4 separate regions of the Homo sapiens genome follow, and all the other regions are linked to region 4. The links come from fine-mapping of genetic effects on gene expression. A gene starts in region 4. Each other region holds a variant in brackets. All regions are shown on one strand. Distances are between the middles of the regions. Region 1 overlaps MGAM (maltase-glucoamylase). Region 2 overlaps MGAM (maltase-glucoamylase). Region 3 overlaps MGAM (maltase-glucoamylase). Region 4 holds the start of MGAM (maltase-glucoamylase).

What was found.
Region 1: its variant is fine-mapped to the expression of MGAM in whole blood (TOPMed, PIP above 0.99).
Region 2: its variant is fine-mapped to the expression of MGAM in whole blood (GTEx, PIP above 0.99). The same link has a PIP of 0.9 or more in monocytes.
Region 3: its variant is fine-mapped to the expression of MGAM in whole blood (TOPMed, PIP above 0.99).

Annotation. Positions count from the first base shown.
Region 1 is chr7:142,049,305-142,053,304 of GRCh38, forward strand. MGAM (maltase-glucoamylase) reads left to right here. Exons shown (of 71, transcript NM_001365693.1): 23 at 931-980; 24 at 1,393-1,560; 25 at 2,990-3,142; 26 at 3,480-3,680. Among named protein-coding and RNA genes, the nearest start is that of MGAM, 55 kb to the left of the region's middle. The variant T/A (reference allele first, on the strand shown) is at 2,347.
Region 2 is chr7:142,063,129-142,067,128 of GRCh38, forward strand. MGAM (maltase-glucoamylase) reads left to right here. Exons shown (of 71, transcript NM_001365693.1): 36 at 371-458; 37 at 1,256-1,394; 38 at 2,207-2,340; 39 at 2,460-2,494; 40 at 2,587-2,703; 41 at 3,445-3,593. Among named protein-coding and RNA genes, the nearest start is that of MGAM2, 47 kb to the right of the region's middle. The variant T/C (reference allele first, on the strand shown) is at 2,482.
Region 3 is chr7:142,105,822-142,110,832 of GRCh38, forward strand. MGAM (maltase-glucoamylase) reads left to right here. Exons shown (of 71, transcript NM_001365693.1): 71 at 1-926. The coding sequence ends at 70. Among named protein-coding and RNA genes, the nearest start is that of MGAM2, 3.4 kb to the right of the region's middle. The variant G/A (reference allele first, on the strand shown) is at 1,695.
Region 4 is chr7:141,992,890-141,999,002 of GRCh38, forward strand. It overlaps MGAM (maltase-glucoamylase), which reads left to right and starts at 2,990. Exons shown (of 71, transcript NM_001365693.1): 1 at 2,990-3,041. RefSeq lists an enhancer at 2,688-3,189.

The sequences.
Region 1 (4,000 bases), 55 kb after region 4:
GTAAAATTAAAAACTTAAATGTAAGGGTTGAAATTGTAAAGCTCCTAGAAGAACACAGGAAACAACCTCCTTGACATTAGTCTTGGCAATGACTTTTTGGATATGATACCAAAAGCAAAGGCAAAATAGCAAATAATAAACAAGCATGACTACATCAAACTAAAAGGCTTCTGCACAGGAAAATAAATAATCAACAAAGTGAAAAGGCAAACTACAGAATGGATAAAAATGTTTGCAAACCATGTATCTCAGAAGAGATTAATATAAAAAAATAAGGAACTCATGCAACTCAGTAGCAAAAGATCAAATGACCCAATTAAAAAGTGGGTGAAGGACCTGAACAGATGTTTTTCCAAGGAAGACATACAAGTGGCTAACTGGCATGTGAAAAGATGCTCAACATCAGTAAGTGACACAGGTATGCAAATAAAAAATTACAGTGAGCTACCACCTCACACCTGTTAGCATGGAAATAATAAAAAAGATAAGAGATAAGTGCTGGCGAGGATGTGGAGAAAATGGAATTTTTGTAGACTGTTGGTGAGAATGTAAATTGTTACAACCGTTATGGAAAATAGTATGCATGTTCCTCAAAAAATTAACAGAACTTCCATACAATCCCATGAAATCCCACTTCTGGGTGTATATCCAGAGGACATGAAACCAGTATCTTTAAGAGATACAGTCACTCCCACGTTCATTACAGCATTATGTGCAACAACCAAGATATAGAAACAATCTAATTATACATTGATGAATGAATGAATAAAGAAATGTGATACACATATACAATTGAAAATTATTCATCCATAAGGAAAAGGAAAACTGCTATGTGTGACCTCAAGGCATAGCTGAAAGGAGTGGTAGGGTGAAATCTGTTCTTCTGAGGTGGGCAGGCCAGAATCTGACTTGTCTTTCTCTCACTTTCAGATACTGTGGCCAATAAAGTGTATCTTTTATGTGAGTTTTCTGTCACTCAAGTGAGTAGCATATTTTTATGAATCTTAGGTGTGGGCTTTGGACTGACCATTAGCACATCTGTGCTTGTGTATATTGTATATGTGTGATTATATTTGTAACTTTATATGCATTATTGGCTATAGGTGAGTACATTTCTATTTATGATTTCATCGATGTTTTCAAAAGGAGGCATTAATATAGCAGCTAGTGTTTCTGAACACAGTTTTTAAATGCCTGTGTGTTTTTATGATCGTTTTAAATTAGAGGATTATCCAAATAATGTTGTACTTCTTCAGCACACACTAGTAGAGAAAGCAGAGAGGCATTTATGGCAGTGGGGGGTATCCGGTCTGGAATGGAATATTTGAGTGACTTGAGAATCTGTGTATACTCATATACCTTTATGCATACTTGGACTTAATTGTTTTGCAGAACCGCTTGGAGGTGAATATTTCACAATCAACCTACAAGGACCCCAATAATTTAGCATTTAATGAGATTAAAATTCTTGGGACGGAGGAACCTAGCAATGTTACAGTGAAACACAATGGTGTCCCAAGTCAGACTTCTCCTACAGTCACTTATGATTCTAACCTGAAGGTAAAAACCCATTTTGTTGAGATGGTACATTGAGAATTCTCCATAGCATCGTGATGTTCCTTCTTGCCAAGTTTGCATGGGTCCCTGAAGGACCAGGGCACCTTTGAGGCCTGTTTTGGGGAAGTGAGAGGGCTGGGGAAAAAAATGAGGTGGCCAGAGCTAGAATGAGTTGGGTATTTTTCTTCTTATTCCCTTCTCTGCCTATCAGTGTTCCCGTCTTTCTAGCTGGTTTCACTTGCTTTTCCCAAAAATAGAATAATTATGATGAGACCCAGGAACAGCAAAGTTGGAAAGTGGGGAATAGCCTGACATTATTAGACTGTGAATTTTGTATGACTAGCACAAATAAGAATTGGTATTTGAAAAAGGCCAGTTTGGATAGGAAACTTGTGGTCAGGTTTTGGAGGTCTTAGTTACCAACTTGATTTAATTCTCAAGCAGTCTCATATTGATCCTTGAATGAAGGCTGTGCTACTGTGTGTGAGCATTGTTGGGAGTGGGAGTGGGGGCTGGGGACTAGTAGAACAGGGAAGTACAAGATGGTTTAGATTGGGAGGAGACTAGGAGAAGGATGATAATCTTTAGAATGTGATTTTTGTACTCCAGACAAGTGAGAACTTTAACTTGGGAAGTGTTGTTTAAAGAAGTGTCAAGATAAGAAAACTATATAGAAAAATATTAAATATTTGAACTAATGGTATTCAAGGAAGGTTTCAGAATTGGAGTCTTTGGGCTTAGAGAAATGAACATGCTGGGATGTTAGAAATAGAAAGAAATATAATGTTT[T/A]TTTCAACTTTTCAAATTTGCCGTTGCTAAAATTGAAACCCAAAGAAATGAAACAGAATACCTGACTTACCCTGATGTGATTATTATGCCCTGTATGCCTGAATCAACATATTTCATATAACCCATAAATATGCATACCTACTATATACCCATTAAAATTAAAAATTAAAAAAAGAAATCATTTGTCCAACATTCTACAGAAATGTGGGCATGATAACCAGGTCATATGATTCTTATTGCTGTGCTCTTTCTACCACTCCACGCCAATGGGTGATACTGGTTTGGGCATTGGAGAGCAAGAGGATCAACTCACTTTAGGATGACATCATGTGTCATCTCACAGCGAGCTAAGAGGAGTCAGGGTAGAAAAGAATAAGGGGTGATCACAACAGGTTTTATTTGACCTAACTGTTTTCATTATGCTAAGTACAAGATTGTGCTAGAGGGGAGACATTTGACCTGTTGCTGCTAAATAGATTCTCCCAATGTGCAGTTCTCTTCTTATAAGCTAAAGTCATATGTTGCTTGGATGTTTGAAAGTCTGGTCTAATTTCTATTTTTTTTTTATCGAAAAAAAAACCTCAGGTCTTGCAAAGCCTGTCTCCTAAAGATGAATTTCCTTATGATTTCCACATTCCTACAGGTTGCCATTATCACAGATATTGATCTTCTCCTGGGAGAAGCATACACAGTGGAATGGAGCATAAAGATAAGGGATGAAGAAAAAATAGACTGTTACCCTGATGAGAATGGTGCTTCTGCCGAAAACTGCACTGCCCGTGGCTGTATCTGGGAGGTAACCATGCTGATGGGGTTTGTGTGCATGAGAATCTCCACACCTAATCTGTAGTTTCTTAAGCATAGCAGTGGTACTTACATAACTACTTAAAATCCATAGAAAGAACTTCCTAAGGGACAGGATCTAGATGTGACAAGTAGGTGGGGACATGTGCGAAACTTCTTAAGATGAATATTTTGCTTGGAGACAAGGAATTGAAATTTATGTTATTGCCAAGTGATAAGTGATGGGCTAGTTTTATCGTCATATAAAATGACTTTACTAACCCTGTTTAGGTTAGAGAACTTTAAGACCACATGCTGTGCTGATCTATGACTTTGGCCTTACTTTTCAGGCATCCAATTCTTCTGGAGTCCCTTTTTGCTATTTTGTCAACGACCTATACTCTGTCAGTGATGTTCAGTATAATTCCCATGGGGCCACAGCTGACATCTCCTTAAAGTCTTCCGTTTATGCCAATGCCTTCCCCTCCACACCCGTGAACCCCCTTCGCCTGGATGTCACTTACCATAAGAATGAAATGCTGCAGTTCAAGGTAAACACAGTACATGTATCAGGTAGTGATTAGACCCTTTTCAGTTCCATTACCTTTTATTGGTCTGGATCACAGAACCCTAAAATAAGTTAATCATGCTACAACAGACTATATCATTATCCAGAGAGCATTGAGAAATCATTGAGGGAACAATGAGACCTGCCCTAATTTTCATTTGGAAAAGATTACTGTGGCTACTGTTAGGAAAATGGTTGGGAGAGCAAGAGTAGGTACGGAGAGACAACTTGGGAGGCTACCAGTTAGGCAGGTCAGTGGAGGGATTAGGTTTGGACTAGACAGTGGAATGCAGGTGGAGAACA
Region 2 (4,000 bases), 69 kb after region 4:
CAGAGTTTGCAGTGAGCCAGGATCGCACCATTGCACTCCAGCCTGGGAAACAAGCATAACTCCATCTCAAAGAATGAAAAACAAAACCAAAAAAAAAACCTGGGAGGCAATTTACTAGGAATTTCTGGAAATTTGATTGCCTCACAGCCACCCTGAAAGAGATCTATTTTTTTACCCCTCTAGCCAGTCGTTCTGTAGGAGTGAATTAATCTTTCTAGCCAGTTCTCACCAGGATTTGATGAAGCTCCCAGGGCTGGCATCTACAGAGATTACTGGATGTTGAACAATTTATTCACTACTTCCTTGGCTCAGAATTGGCAGGACGTAATTATCTTAAAAAGTGAGGTATGTCTGTGTTTGGCATTTCTAGGATATGAATGAACCATCAAGCTTCGTGAATGGGGCAGTTTCTCCAGGCTGCAGGGACGCCTCTCTGAACCACCCTCCCTACATGCCACGTAAGAAGCCTTGGCCTCCTTGACTGGCAGAGCCATGACTGGAAGGATTACACTGGAGGAGCCCGAGGCCAGGGGCAGCCCCACAGCTGAGGGCACATCCTCATGGCTGCTGTGGTTTACTGGGGACCAGAGACAAAAGCTCTGCACGTGCTTTACCCAGCCGGGCATGGGCAAGTGACTAGACTCATTGAGCAAATTTCTTGAAATTTGTCCAGAAAGCACTTAGCAGAGCTCATGGCACAAAGGGTTCTCACAGCTGAGTTTCTTAGTTTTTAGGCTTGTGTGAATTCCATCACAGGAATTTCTTGTGTCATCAGTGAGTGGAAATTACTGGCTTCCCCTTATCATGGAGCTGATGGACTTTGGAGTTACACTTGGGTTCATATCTTGGCTCCAGAAATTGTTCTCTCTAGGAGTTTTGTGACTTTTCACAGATTATGTGATATTTCCAAATCTCAGTTTGCTAAATTGTAAAAGACGGATAATGAGATCTTCTTCATAGAATTATGGAAATAATTGGAAGTCAAAAGCCTAAATCAGAGCCCGTCATGTAGTGTTTGACAGCTGTACGTTCTTCCTGACACCTCTGCTTCCTTCAGTGAACTTGATGTTGGAAACACAGCAGGCGCCAATGCAGCTCAGAGCTGGGGGCGCTGTGCTCATGTCTCTGGGGAGATGGAGAGCGACACAGGCAGGACTGAAGTTAGTCTTAAGATCCAGGGCCCAGTCCCTTGAAGAGAAGTCAGGGAGAAACAGAATCAGGGCTGGGTTTCACCTCGCCAGTTCTTCCTCCTCAGATTTGGAGTCCAGGGACAGGGGCCTGAGCAGCAAGACCCTTTGTATGGAGAGTCAGCAGATCCTCCCAGACGGCTCCCTGGTGCAGCACTACAACGTGCACAACCTGTATGGGTGGTCCCAGACCAGACCCACATACGAGTGAGTCTCCGTCTCCCTTCTCCAGCTGTCACAACCTATAGCGATTGCCAGTGACTGACATAGCTACCCTAGTTTTCCTTTCATTCCATTTCTAAGGATTAAGAAGATTCTCATAACTCTGTAATGATTCTTATTTATTAAACAAATGCTCATTGACATGGAGCCAGGCCCTGTGATTAAAAGTAGGAGGACAGATTTAAATAAGGCATGGTCCCACCAGTGAAAAACTTAATGATCCTAGTGGGAAAGACTCACATGGAGACACCATAATGGTCACACAGGGCAGCCAGTGGAACAATAGCTTTAGTTACAGGAGGTGAAGGGAACACAGAGGACTGGGCATCTCTCCCGTTCATTTCAAAGTGAATCATCTTTGGAGATGTTTGTATTTTTGGCCATTCTTGGTGGAGGGTAACTGGTATTGTACTGAATTAGCACAGTCCTGCTTTGCAAGCTCAATGAATAGTATGAATTCTTCTAAGAGGATCTTATAACCTTCACTGTGTTCCTTCTCAAATATAGAAAACTAAGTATTGAGGAAACCATTAGCAAGACATAGTAATTCCTTAGTATTTTGGGAGTACTCCAGTGAGGCTGCTACAGTGAAGTTCTTTGTAAAGCACTGTGAGAACACGTGACTCATTATCTCCATCATCTGGGATCAGTGGAACTCCTATTACAGCTCAGAGTCCCATGTTCCCTCCAGTCACGCAGCAAACATTGACTAGGCTCAAGGGCTCTGGGAGCAGAAGCTCTATGGCCTTTACTCCCTGGCTGTTGCCTCAGTTCACCTCCTGTTCCCTTCCAAGCAGAGCCGTGCAGGAGGTGACGGGACAGCGAGGGGTCGTCATCACCCGCTCCACATTTCCCTCTTCTGGCCGCTGGGCAGGACATTGGCTGGGAGACAACACGGCCGCATGGGATCAGCTGAAGAAGTCTATCATTGGTGCGTGGGTCCTTCCCCAGGGCCTTTGCCGACAGGGCAGGGAGTTGGGATCCTTAGGGAAGAGGTGAGGAGGCAGATCATGAGAGCCTGGTGTGACACAGCTGTGCTTCTCGTTGCAGGCATGATGGAGTTCAGCCTCTT[T/C]GGCATATCCTATGTGAGTGTCCTTGGGATCCTCCTAAGCACCAAGAAGGTGGGGACATCTTTCAGAAATCATCAGCAGGCTCCTTTTATTTCCTCTTGTTTCAGACGGGAGCAGATATCTGTGGGTTCTTTCAAGACGCTGAGTACGAGATGTGTGTTCGCTGGATGCAGCTGGGGGCCTTTTACCCCTTCTCAAGAAACCACAATACCATTGGGACCAGGGTAGGACAGTGGCTTCTACCTCCACTGTTTTATGTCACTTGAAAGACAGTCTCCATTTCTGTGCTAAAAGTAATGCAGTCTCTATTTCCTGGGATATCTTTAAAAAAAGGTGTTTTTTTTTGTTTTGTTTTGTTTTGTTTTTTTTTTTGAAACAGGGATTTACTCTGTTGGCCAGGCTGAATCGTGCAGTGTCCCAATCATGGCTGACTGCAGCCTCCACCTCTGGGGCTAAAGCGATTGTCCCACGTCAGCCTTCTGAATAGCTGGGATAAAGGCACATCCCAGCGTGGCTACCTAATTTTTGATTTTTTGTAGAAATGGGATCTTGCCATATTTCACAGGATGGTCTCGAACTCCTGGGCTCAAGCGATCCACTCGACAGCCTCCAAAAGTGCTGGGATTACAGGCGTGAGCCACTGCACCCTTAAAAATTGTGAAGACCTGGTGTCTCAATGAACCATATTCCTCATTGTGCTTTAGATTATTATTTTTTTCCTGTATTTCAGGCAGAATTTTACCAAATGTTCCAAAAAGAATGTCTTACAGTGAAATTTTATCAGCTGTCTTAGGAGAGCTTTGGTGACTCTTTCCGGTCTATTAAGAATATTCTCTGGGCCTCATGTATAGTTTTCTTTTGTTTAGCTGTGAGTGATCTTCAATTGGAGTATGCTTTTAGTGACCTTCTTAAATCCCCTAGAAATTCCAGGGCGAGCTCCCAACACTGTTCTCTTTCTCCTTTAGAGACAAGACCCTGTGTCCTGGGATGCTGCTTTTGTGAATATTTCCAGAAATGTCCTGCAGACCAGATACACCCTGTTGCCATATCTGTATACCTTGATGCAAAAGGCCCACACGGAGGGCGTCACTGTTGTGCGGCCTCTGCTCCATGAGTGAGTGTCCAGCAGGGATCCCGATGACTAATGGATGACTTATTGCATTCTATGTGGTAGCAGTTGATATACACAACGCTTCCAAATTAAAGACATGATGGCCTTTTGACATGAGCTCTTCAGACACAAAGTATACCTGATTACTGTCTTTAGCACAGTGTTATACATACCGTAGGTCATAAAAAAAGGGTATTTATTGAATGACGAAAATTGAAATGATGCAGTACAGCATAGAATAGTTTCATTCTAATTTGGTTGTGCAAAGGCCTATCTTATGTAGCAGTTTTGTTATATGGACCCAGGTCACAAAAGAAGGATTTCAGCAAGAGAATTGAGGGACGAGGGCCATCCTCACATTTAAAATGTGCCATGGTTAAGAAATGAGGTAATATTTTACAGGAGAGAAC
Region 3 (5,011 bases), 110 kb after region 4:
CATCGATGTGACTGACAGAAACATCAGCCTACATAATTTTACTTCATTGACGTGGATAAGCACTCTGTGAATTTTTACAGCAAGATTCTAACTAACTATGAATGACTTTGAAACTACTTATACTTCATACTCATAAAAATTATTGTGTGTTGCTAATTTGTTCATACCCACTATTGGTGAAATATTTCTGTTAATTTTGTTATATGTTTTTTGTGTGAACCCTAAAGGTTAAACCTTAGCCCTGTGGGATAGGCAGTTAGGGAGGTGTGGAAAATCTATGCATTACCTTAATGTCTCTGTGTGGTTAGTATGGTAGTGACTGTTCATCATATGACATTTACTGAAGATGAACTGGGTCCATGATGAAGTGTGTGTATGTCCACGTTTGTAATCATAGAATGGACCCCATTCTTTTGTTAAATACACAAGAGAAAGCTTTCTGTGACAGTTCCAGGTCTTGAAGCTAATCAGCATCTCAAGAAAGTATCCAGAAAGAACATCTGCTAGTTGGTTATAGGCGGTGGGAGGAATAATATACCTAATTGGTTATAGGTGGGGGGAGCATGATAAGCAAAGAAAAGGCAAACACAAGGAAAGATCAGATGAAACAGAAGATGATAGTAAAAGTGATCCTAAGTAAGAACATAATGTAAAATTGTCAGCAGCCTCATGGGGAGGAAAAAGGAAGAGTCAACTCACTTGAAGAAGAGGGTCTTGAGAAATCCTTAGCATAAAGGGCTACTGGTGAGATTGAGATCTGAGCAGGCAAAGCTCAAAAGAGAGTTTGGAGGTTAAAAATAATTTATTTTTGCAGTAGTGTGCTTTGAAATGTGTAAATCTTATTTCTAATGTATACAACCACATTTCACATAAAAATATGCAATTTATATGCCAGATAAAAATAAAACAAGTGAATTTGCAAGTGATTTTGAATTTTGTGCTATTTTGACCATGAGTAATCTCTGTTTGGGGTTAAGGTTCTTGTTTAGCAAACTCTTATGAATTTGTCTTTCTGGTTCTCTTCGGCATCACAGAACCTACAGCCAAATCCACCAATAGGATGATAACCTTTATAATTATCCTTTTTCTTACATCTCTGCAAGGAGTCTTTTATAAGATGTGGGTTTGTGGAAGGGTCTATTGATTACTATTTTAATCATCATAGCAGTTGCTATATTTAGGAAAATACCAACTCCAGTAAAAATAGGAGTTGCAACCTTCTTGCTTAAAATTCTATAGGGTTAAAATGTGAGATAAGGAAATTATATATTAATGTTCAACAGGAATATTAACTTTTGATGTTACCTGAAAATGAGTTGAAAATGAATGTGTGTGGAATGAATGAACCTACTTCTCTGTGTTTTCTTCTTTTCTTATAACCAGGAAGCCATTCATTCTCCCTGCACACTCATGTGTCAGCACCTGCATAAGGCTAGAGACAAACAATATTGTTAAATCATCTAATTATCACAATACGGGGCATTTGGATGAGGGCCTGAGCTAACTAGGAAACTGGTGAAATATGGAAAAGCAGCCATGGGAATCCTTTGATCAAAAAGGTGGGAAACTTGTCAGCTTTCCTCTAACAAACTCAGGAAGGCCACAAAGATGAAAACGTTATTTACTTGATATTTAAAAAATATTTAATGTTACCATCAAGGATATGTTGGTGGAATTTGGCTCTGGCTGCCACA[G/A]AATGCTTAAGGAGAGGCATTCTGACTATATAATTCTGATGGCTAAGGCCCTAGTGAGGCCAGTGGGGTTTTGGAGCACACGAAGTGTCAGGGACCCCACTGACAGCCTAGTGAAACCTACGGAATTCTTCCTCACAACATTGTTTTTAAATGCATCAAGCAAAATGCATGCTATTTCAAAGAAAACTTATCATATTACGATACACTTATCCAAATATTAAAGATGATATAGTAACCCATGAGATGTGTTTTTTTCATTATCAAATTAAATGAAAAGATCCAACAGTGGAAGTAACAATGCTATAATTTCAATGTAATGATCAACATCAACAATATTTTGAGATATCCACTACAATTTCATAATGTAATATGGAAAGATCTGTGATTGCATTATTGACAAACTCATGTGCTATGAAAACTACTGTGTTTTGTTGTCTACATTCATAACCTAACAAAATGCTAAATTTCAGCCAGAAATGTGTGAAAAAGAGATTATCTGTTGGAACCAATATGGCTTACCGGAGTTAACGCAGAAAGAGCTTGCTGACGTCACAGCCTGAATTTCCACCACAGGTTCTTACTAACTCCCTCCCAAATTTGCACATGAGACCCATGATGAGGCATGAAGAGATAACTGTGCATGCCTGAGGACTTTCTAGATTTCCTCTTTCTTTTACCAATCACCTGCTAATCCCAGAATCCACCCCCTAAGTCTTTTCTGATAAAAATACTTCCTTAAAGCCAGCACAGGAAGACAGGTTTGAGCTGGACTCCTGTGTCCTGTGAGTCGACTTTGCAATAAAAGCTTTTCTTCGAAACCCTTTATCAGAGTATTGGCTTCTAGCGCATCGAAGAGTGAGCCCTTTCGCTCAATAATACCCCCAGAGGTTGTTCCTCAGATCACAGTCTGAGAACCACCTCTCATGGAACCATATCCATTTGTGGCCATCCCAGAGCAGCCCCTACAACATGGACCTATGCTTACAACTCCTGGCCAGCTATTCAGGAAGAGGCTGGGGGCCTTCCTTTTCCACATATGCTCTGTTTTTTAGATCACATAATTTTGCTTTCTTCATAGGTGTGCCAAAATAAAAAAAAAAACACTCTCAAACTCTTTCACTTAAATAGGAAGACATCTATTCCTTTCTTATTAATGTTATAACATTAAATGTCATATATACCTGCAAAGATAAGGTTATGTTGGCCGTGGCAGATGTCTTCAAGATCTCATCAATATTTCTTTGTTCTTGTCATAGCGGCAGAGTCACTGAGAGTTTTGCATCTGGCCTTGGAGAAAGGTGTTCTGGAAGTTAAGGGTGACTCATATTACTAGTTTCTGATCTGATGATTCCAACCAGCAGCTTGCTGTGACAACTGTTTGAGTTCCGCCAATAGCTAACTTTGCCGTGCCTTGTTACCGATAGACAACTGGAAGATGTCGGGTCACGTGCCTGTCTCTACCCTTCAAAGTGGCTCTGTTATTTTCTCATTGGTCAACACCAGTATGGTGATTCAATATCTTCCAGTTACTAGTTAGCAAGAATGGAAGGTGAAGGTAGCTATTTTCTGCACTTTAGGAAACAGGTTATAGATTAGCTGGGCCTGTTGGTTACCACTATTAACATAAATGAAGTCACAAATGTGCATGGCATGTGGGGAGTTAAAGGTAAAATATCACACAAAAAATAGATCTTATGTAACAATAAAATCTCCCTTCTTGACCTTTTGCCAGGATGTCTTCCCAATTTGAAATGAGATCTTGGTACATTTCCCCTCTAACAAAGGCCACCTTGTACTGGGGCAAATGAAAAGCTGAATATGTCATTCCAGCAGTTCATAAATGCAGAAACCGAGTCTCTCTTTCTCTCTCTCTCTCTCTGTCCCTCCCTCTCTCTCTCTCACTTTCTCTCTCTCTCTCCGTGTGTGTGTGTATGTGTGCTTTTCCACATACTGAGCATTTGAAGCAAACACAAAAGATTCACTACTGTGAACACTGTTATTTACAGTTCTTAGGTGCCACCAAAAGAGCTCTCTGTACCCTCATATATTACTGGCAGGAATGGGGGTGTAAAATGGTGCTGCCACATTAGAAAGCAGTTTTGCAGTTCTTCAAAAAGTTAAAGACTTGTCACATGACCCATGATTCCACTCCTAGGTATATTCCAGGCAGAATTTTAAAACGTGTCAGCTCATAGCAGCATCGTTCATAACAGGCAAAAAGTATCAACAACCTAGATGTATATCAGCTGATACATGCCTAAACAAAATGTGGTCTATCCACGCAGTGGATACTATCCAGACATGGAAAGGAACAGACACTGATACCTGAAATGGTGTGGATGAACTTTGAAAATATCATGCCAAGTAAAAGAAGCCAGACACAGATGGCCACATATTGTATTACTGCATTTATATGAAATGTTCACAATAGGCAAATCCATAAGGACAGAAAGTAGGTTAGTGGCTGCAGAAACAGGGGGAGATGGGAATGGGGAGTGACCACTAATTATTTTTGGGGGTGGCAAAAATGTTCTGGAATTAGATAGTGGTGATAGTTTCAGAATTTTGTAAATATATTTTTAAAAACACTGAATTGTATACTTTAAAAGAGTGAATCTTATGGTTTGGAAATTATATGTCAATTTAAAAATCCACTTTAGCTGGCTTAAGAAAAATTTTAAAAAGATATTGGTGACTCATTGAAACTCCGGTAGGACTAGAGAGTCAGGTTTGTAGGCCATGTGGCTAGGGACAAGCCCCAGGTTACCCTGTAGCGGTTTCTACTGCCACTGCCCTGAGCACATATCTGGCAGCTCGCAACCCCAAATACTGAGCATAGGATGCCACTAGGTCTCTTGTCCCTGCTGCCTCTGAAACGAGCTATGCTTCCAACATCCTGGATTTTACATGGTACCTCCTTATCTACACCTTCTTCTGGATGTAAGTCACTCACAGGAATATCTCATTCACAAAGCTCCAGCCACTTGCCTCTACCTTGGATGAAAGAAAGGCTGTGAAAGAGAATTTCTAGCTGTTTCTTTGGGGAGGCAGAATTTGGAGAAAAAGTCCTTAAGTTGATTTAAGTAAGAGGTTTTCTTTTTCTTTTTAAAGAAAGATCCTCCGTTTTTAAATTTTTTTCAACTTTTATTTTAGATTCAGGGTCTAAGATTCAGGGTGCATATACAGGTTCATTTCAAGGGTATATTGTGTGATGCTGAGGTTTGGGGTGTGATTGAACCTGTCACCTAGGTAGTGAGTATAGTACCCAATAGGTAGTGTTACTACCTTTGTCTCCCTCCCCACCTCCCCCATCTTAG
Region 4 (6,113 bases):
TTGGCACTCGGCCAGCCTCCATGCATGCCAGTTTTCCTTTCTTTCCTCTTTTAGCTGTAAATTCTTTGATTCTATGATGCCAAAGAAACACGGTAAGTCAGTGTTACCACGGTGGTTGTTGTTCACTGATGGTTCATGAAATCAGAAAAGTAAGGATAAGGAAGTAAACTTTCAAAGAGATAAATTGATTCAATTTTGATTATCTGTCTATGTCTACTGTGAAACGACTGTGATAAGAGATAGTGATTTTTGTTTGTATTTTCCAGATGATATACATGGTTTATAAATTTAGGTCTCTTGGCCCAGATTTTTTTCTGAATTTTCACTAGCCCATAAAGACAAATGCCTAGAAATAGCAGTAGCTGAGCAGGACTTTTTAAACTATGTGTGGTAAAACAGCAATTGTTTTAAAATTGTCCAATATATCACAGACTGTGGCTTTTGTAAAATTAAAACTAAATTACTTGAAAAATAAATTTTAAAAAAGCATATACAGATACAAGCTCCATTTTTTAATTATCAAGATCAATGACATGAAATGATTCTGTCAAATTGTAATGCAAGTCTCTCAACACTTACCTTCAATTTCTGTGCTTATTTTTCTGGAAGCTGGCAACCACAGGTTCACAGATAACTCTTGGAGTATCACAGAGCGGGGAACTCTGCCCCACTTGGAGGAAGGTCCACTTAGTAACAGAGCAAAGTTCTTAACCTGGGGTTTGTAGATATAATTCTGAAAGCCTGTGAACTTGGAGGGGGAAAATATTTACATATCTTTTCTTTGCTAAATTCTAATTGAAATTTAGAGTTAGGCTGCAAACTACAGTGGTGTTAGTAGTACCTATGAATTTGGTTTCAAGAGAGGTCACAGTTACTTTCACATCATATATTTAAAACAATCTCAAGATATTGTTTACGCTTATCATGTTTTTGAAATTGCAATCGCTATTAGACATATCGCTTTATTGTTAGTATGTCATTAAAGAGGCACAAACTATAATTTAAAAAATATTATAGTAACTGTGTTTCAATGTAATTGATTTTCTTTGTATCTCAGCTCACTACAACCTCCGCCTCCTGGGTTCAAGTGATTCTCTTGCCGCAGCCTCATGAGTAGCTGGGATTACAGGCACGCACCGCCATGCCCGGCTAATTTTCGTACTTTTAGTAGAGACGCGGTTTCACCATGTTGGCCAGGCTGGTCTTGAACTCCTGGCCTCAGGTGATCTGTCCACCTCAGCCTCCCAAAGTGCTGGGATTACAGGCGTGAGCCACTGCACCTGGCCTAAGAATTAATTCTAAGAGGGGTTTATAAGCATGTCTCAGCTCCATAAGTTCTTCTTGCCCACTGCCCTCCAAAAAGATCAATGAGAACAGCAGGCATTGCAGTAAATAAAGAGTTGAATAATCACAGTGTTGGCCAAACAAGAGCAGGCAAAAACTTCTCAATCCCCTCTCCCTCAGGATTCAAAGGCTAAGGTTTGTAAAGGGTACTTTGGTGGGCATGGGGCTGGGGAACTTGTATAATTGATTGGCAGGGAATGAAATCACAGGAGCACCTAAAACTGTCTTTGTGCAACTGAGTCAGTTCCCAGGAGGGGTGTGTGTGTTGGCCTCAAGACTAGGTGGTGTCTGTTGGTCTACTGAAATGCTAACAAATATCTAAAAGACCAGTTATTTAGGTTTCACAATAGTGATTGATATGGTTAGGCTTTGTGTCAGAACCCAAATCTTATCTTGAATTGTAATCCCCATAATCCCCATGTGTCAAGGGAGGGACCAGGTGGGATGTGATTGGATCATGGGGGCGGATCCCCCTATGCTGTTCTCATGATAGTGGGTGAGTTCTCATGAGATCTGATGGTTTTGCAAAGCAGTTTTCCCTGCTCTTGCTCACTCTCTCTGGCCTGCCGCCATGTTAAGAAGTCCCTGCTTCCCCTTCCACCATGATTGTTTCCTGAGGCCTTCCCACCCTTGCGGAACTGAGTCAACGAAACCTCTTTTCTTTATAAATTACCCAGTCTCAGGCATGTCTTTATAGAAGTGTGAAAACAGACCAATACAGTGATGTTATCTTTGGTAGTTGGGGAAGTTATGAATTTTGTGACACTGGTTGTGTGACTGGGGCAGTAAGCAACTTATAGAAAAACAAACTAAGCCATGGCAGGACATTGTTTATGCCTATTCTTTAGCAAAGTCTAAGCCCCTACCATAATTCCAACCTTGCCTTATGAATGCGCCTTTAAGCTCCAGGCAAGGAGGGGGATCATTTTCCCTTGACTCCAAGTTTAACTATAAACTAAATCCCTCTCATAGGTTTCTTGGCCTTTGTACTAGAATAAGCAAAAAGCCAACCAAAAAAAAAAAAAATCCCCTAGAAAACATAATTTAGCCTGGGAGGTTAGAAGCAAGATGGAGTCAGTCTTGTTAGATTTCTCTTATTTATAGTTCTGCAAAGGCAGTTCAAGAGTCACCAGACTGTTAAAGGATTTCCATACTGCAAACAAGCTTAAGGACACCTTAAAGAAGAAAGAAGAAAACTATTTTTAAAACATTTTTAAAACAACTTCCTTCCATCACAATCATCAGATTGTGCTACTAAACGTCAGTGAGTTCCTGAGAGATTCGGAGTCAGTGCAAGAGACCAGGGCTCTTTTGGAATACTGGGGTCATTTATTTTTTGCTCTTTATCATCTACAAATTGTGTCTGTGTTCTCTTACCAGACATACAGGGTGTCCTCACCACCGATTAAACATTCAGTGCCTGGAGGGGATGGAGTGGGTCATGGGAGCTGGCTTTTCCTTCCAAAAGTCTTAAGGATGTCCTTCTTAGAGCAAGACCACGATTACTAATTAACTAAAAATTCTGATCCTGGAAATAAAAGCTGGCCATTCATTTGCATTTGAAAGCCATTAACATTTTCTTGATAGGTCGGTAAATAGTTACCAGATCTTTGGTTGCTTTGGTGGACTGTGCTCCTCTGCTTTTATTGCTAAGCCATCCTTCAGACAGAGAGGGAGCGGCTGCAAGAGGTAATGAGGTATGTTTGTGAACCTTGTATTCTTTTACGGTTACAGATGTGTGTCTACAAGTGTGTGTGAATTTGAGTTGATCTCTTTTAGTCAAAATGCCCTTGTTGGCCGGGTGCAGTGGCTCACACTTGTAATCCCAGCACTTTGGGAGGCCGAGGCGGGTGGATCACGAGATCAGGAGATCGAGACCATGGTGAAACCCCATCTCTACTAAAAAAATACAAAAAATTAGCCGGGCATGGTGGCGGGCGCCTGTAGTCCCAGCTACTCGGAGAGGCTAAGGCAGGAGAATGGCGTGAACCTGGGAGGTAGAGCTTGCAGTGAGCCGAGATCACGCCACTGCACTCCAGCCTGGGTCGTAGAGCGATACTCCGTCTCAAAAAAAAAAAAAAAGCCCTTGTTAATTTGTTAAACACAAAGATAAACAACACCAATAATAAATCAAAAATTATGCACATGCATACACATGGAACAAAATTCTCATTTATCTTTTTTTCTTAGTGTGTGTATATTTTTCTGAACTAAGGCTGGATCTATAAGCCTGATTGTAGTGAAACCTGTGTGTTTGTGTGTGTTTCTGTGTGAGGTGTGATGAATTATTTAATACTTAGGTTGAGGTAGCAGGCAGAAATTCTTTCAGATTCTGGAAATGAAGTGAGAGAAATGAATAAAAGGAGTTAGAATTTGGGAGTGAGATTAGAGCATTTTCCCTCTGAAAGGATTTGGAGTTGTGATTGAGAAAATGTAACTGAAGAACCAATTATAATCAGAAAATTGAGAAATATATCACTATGCTTATGGGTTTGGTGCCTCTGTTGATTAAATACAGAATAATTTTAGGGGATAGTCTGAGGATGTGTGTAAAATATTGGGATGCATTTATGAGTTGGTGTGCATTGGTGGGTAGGAGAGGTTTCCTGTGGAATGTGGGAGGAGGTCATAAAGAGAAAGGTAGGGTATCTGTCCTGGCAGTCATGTGTGGAGTAGAATGGGAGTGCTCGTGGGAAGAGGAGAAGGTGATAAATTGTTGTTGGCCCTTAAACTTAAAAACTTAAAATAAAATACTTAAAATAAACTTAAAATAAAACTTAAAATAAAACTTAAAAAAAGTTGGATCCTTACTAGTTGCCAGTCTAGCTAGACACACGCAGGCATTTCTTTTCTGACTGGTTACAGAGGTGGGAAGGGAGAGTTACTCTTGGGGAAAGAGAGAGAAATTGAGACTAATCCCCATGGGTCTCCCTGAAAAAGGATACCACTAGGTTCTTCATGCAGGATCTGATCAGTGGCTTTGCTGGGCGAGGAAGACCTCCCAATGTCCAAACTGTCTACAGTCTGTGTCCTGGTGTGGGACAGTAAGTGTATGTCTGTAGGTGTGCAAAGAGGGGGTGAGATGGAGGGGGTCTTTGGTTTGTTGTGCTGGTAGGTCCCTGTGCTACCAGGGACCAAATGAAGTGGGACACTAAATTTAAGACAGCTTGTTGCTATTTCAGTCACACTCTCACAAGATGCCAATGATTATTTTTTATTATCAGGCATTCCCTCACAAATACATTTTAATGAGCTAATAAAATTACTATAAAAATTGTTCTATAAGCATGGAATGGAACTAGAAAAGAAATTTTCCATTTAAAATTTGTTCAGGTGGCAGCTGTGGAATGTGATGAGAAATATAAGCCTTTGCACACCCTGTTGCTGGGCTCAAGGAGGAGTTAGCTGTCTCCTAGAGATGATCCTTTTGCAGTTCAGATGGGGAAACTGAGACCCAGAGGGGTTAAGTGGATTTTTCCAAGGTCATACAGCTGGCTAGGGTCAGAGCTGACTCTTAAATCTCTCACCTTGGGTGTGACCAGACTTGGAAGAAAAAAGCCATTCATTAGCTACCTTATCCCTTCCCATTCACCAAGCAGCTGGGAAAGGATGGCCCAACCTACTAATATCGCCCAGCATTTTTGATGAATAGCTATGGCTCACTGGGGTCCTCTTTGCAAGTTGTTCTTAGTCTATCTATCCACAATGAATCCTCTTTTCCACTAGATCTCATGTCTTGTGTTAGCAAAGGATTTTAAAAGAATGGCTTAGACCTCCATATACACATCAAACGCTGGCTATAATGCCGGAAAGAGGACAAATATCCAGTTTTTCCAAATTAATTTAGATAGCCATTTTAATAATTTGGGCCCCCATGTGGTTTGTCTACTTTGCCTAAAGAACTATAATGGTACCAGGACAATGAGCTTTGACAATTATTCATATACTAAATAATTCAAGAAGAAAAAAATTCTATTGCTTTTGCGTAATGTATATATAGTAATAATTCTTTTTTTAAATTTTACTTTAAGTTCTGGAATACATGTGCAGAATGTGCAGGTTCGTTACATGGGTATACATGCGCCATGGTGGTTTGCTGCACCTGTCAACCCATCATCTAGGTTTTAAGCCCCACATGCATTAGGTATTTGTCATAATTCTCTCCCTCCCCTAGCCCGCCATCCCCTGACAGGCCCTAATGTGTGATGTTCCCCTCCCCATGTCCATGTGTTCTCATTGTTCAACTTCCACTTATGAGTGAAAACATGTAGTGTTTGGTTTTCTGTTCCTGTGTTAGTTTGCTGAGAATGATGGCTTCCAGTTTCATCCATGTCCCTGCAAAGGACATGAACTCATCCTTTTTTATGACTGCATAGTATTTCATGGTGTATATGTGCCACATTTTGTTTATTCAGTCTATCATTGATGGGCATTTGGGTTGGTTCCAAGTCTTTGCTATTGTAAATAGTGCTGCAGTAAACATACGTGTGCGTGTGTCTTTATAGTAGAATGATTTATAATCCTTCGGGTACATACCCTGTAATGGGATTGCTGGGTCAAATGGTATTTCTAGTTCTAGATCCTTAAGGAATTGCCACGCTGTCTTCCACAATGCTTGAACTAATTTACACTCCCAACAGTGTAAAAGCGTTCATATGTATATAGTAATAATTCTTATATTTCAGTAAGATTATTTTCTGACCAACCTAATTAAAATTGCCACCCTTACCCCAACATTCCTCATTTACCCCCCACTTTTTCTCCATATA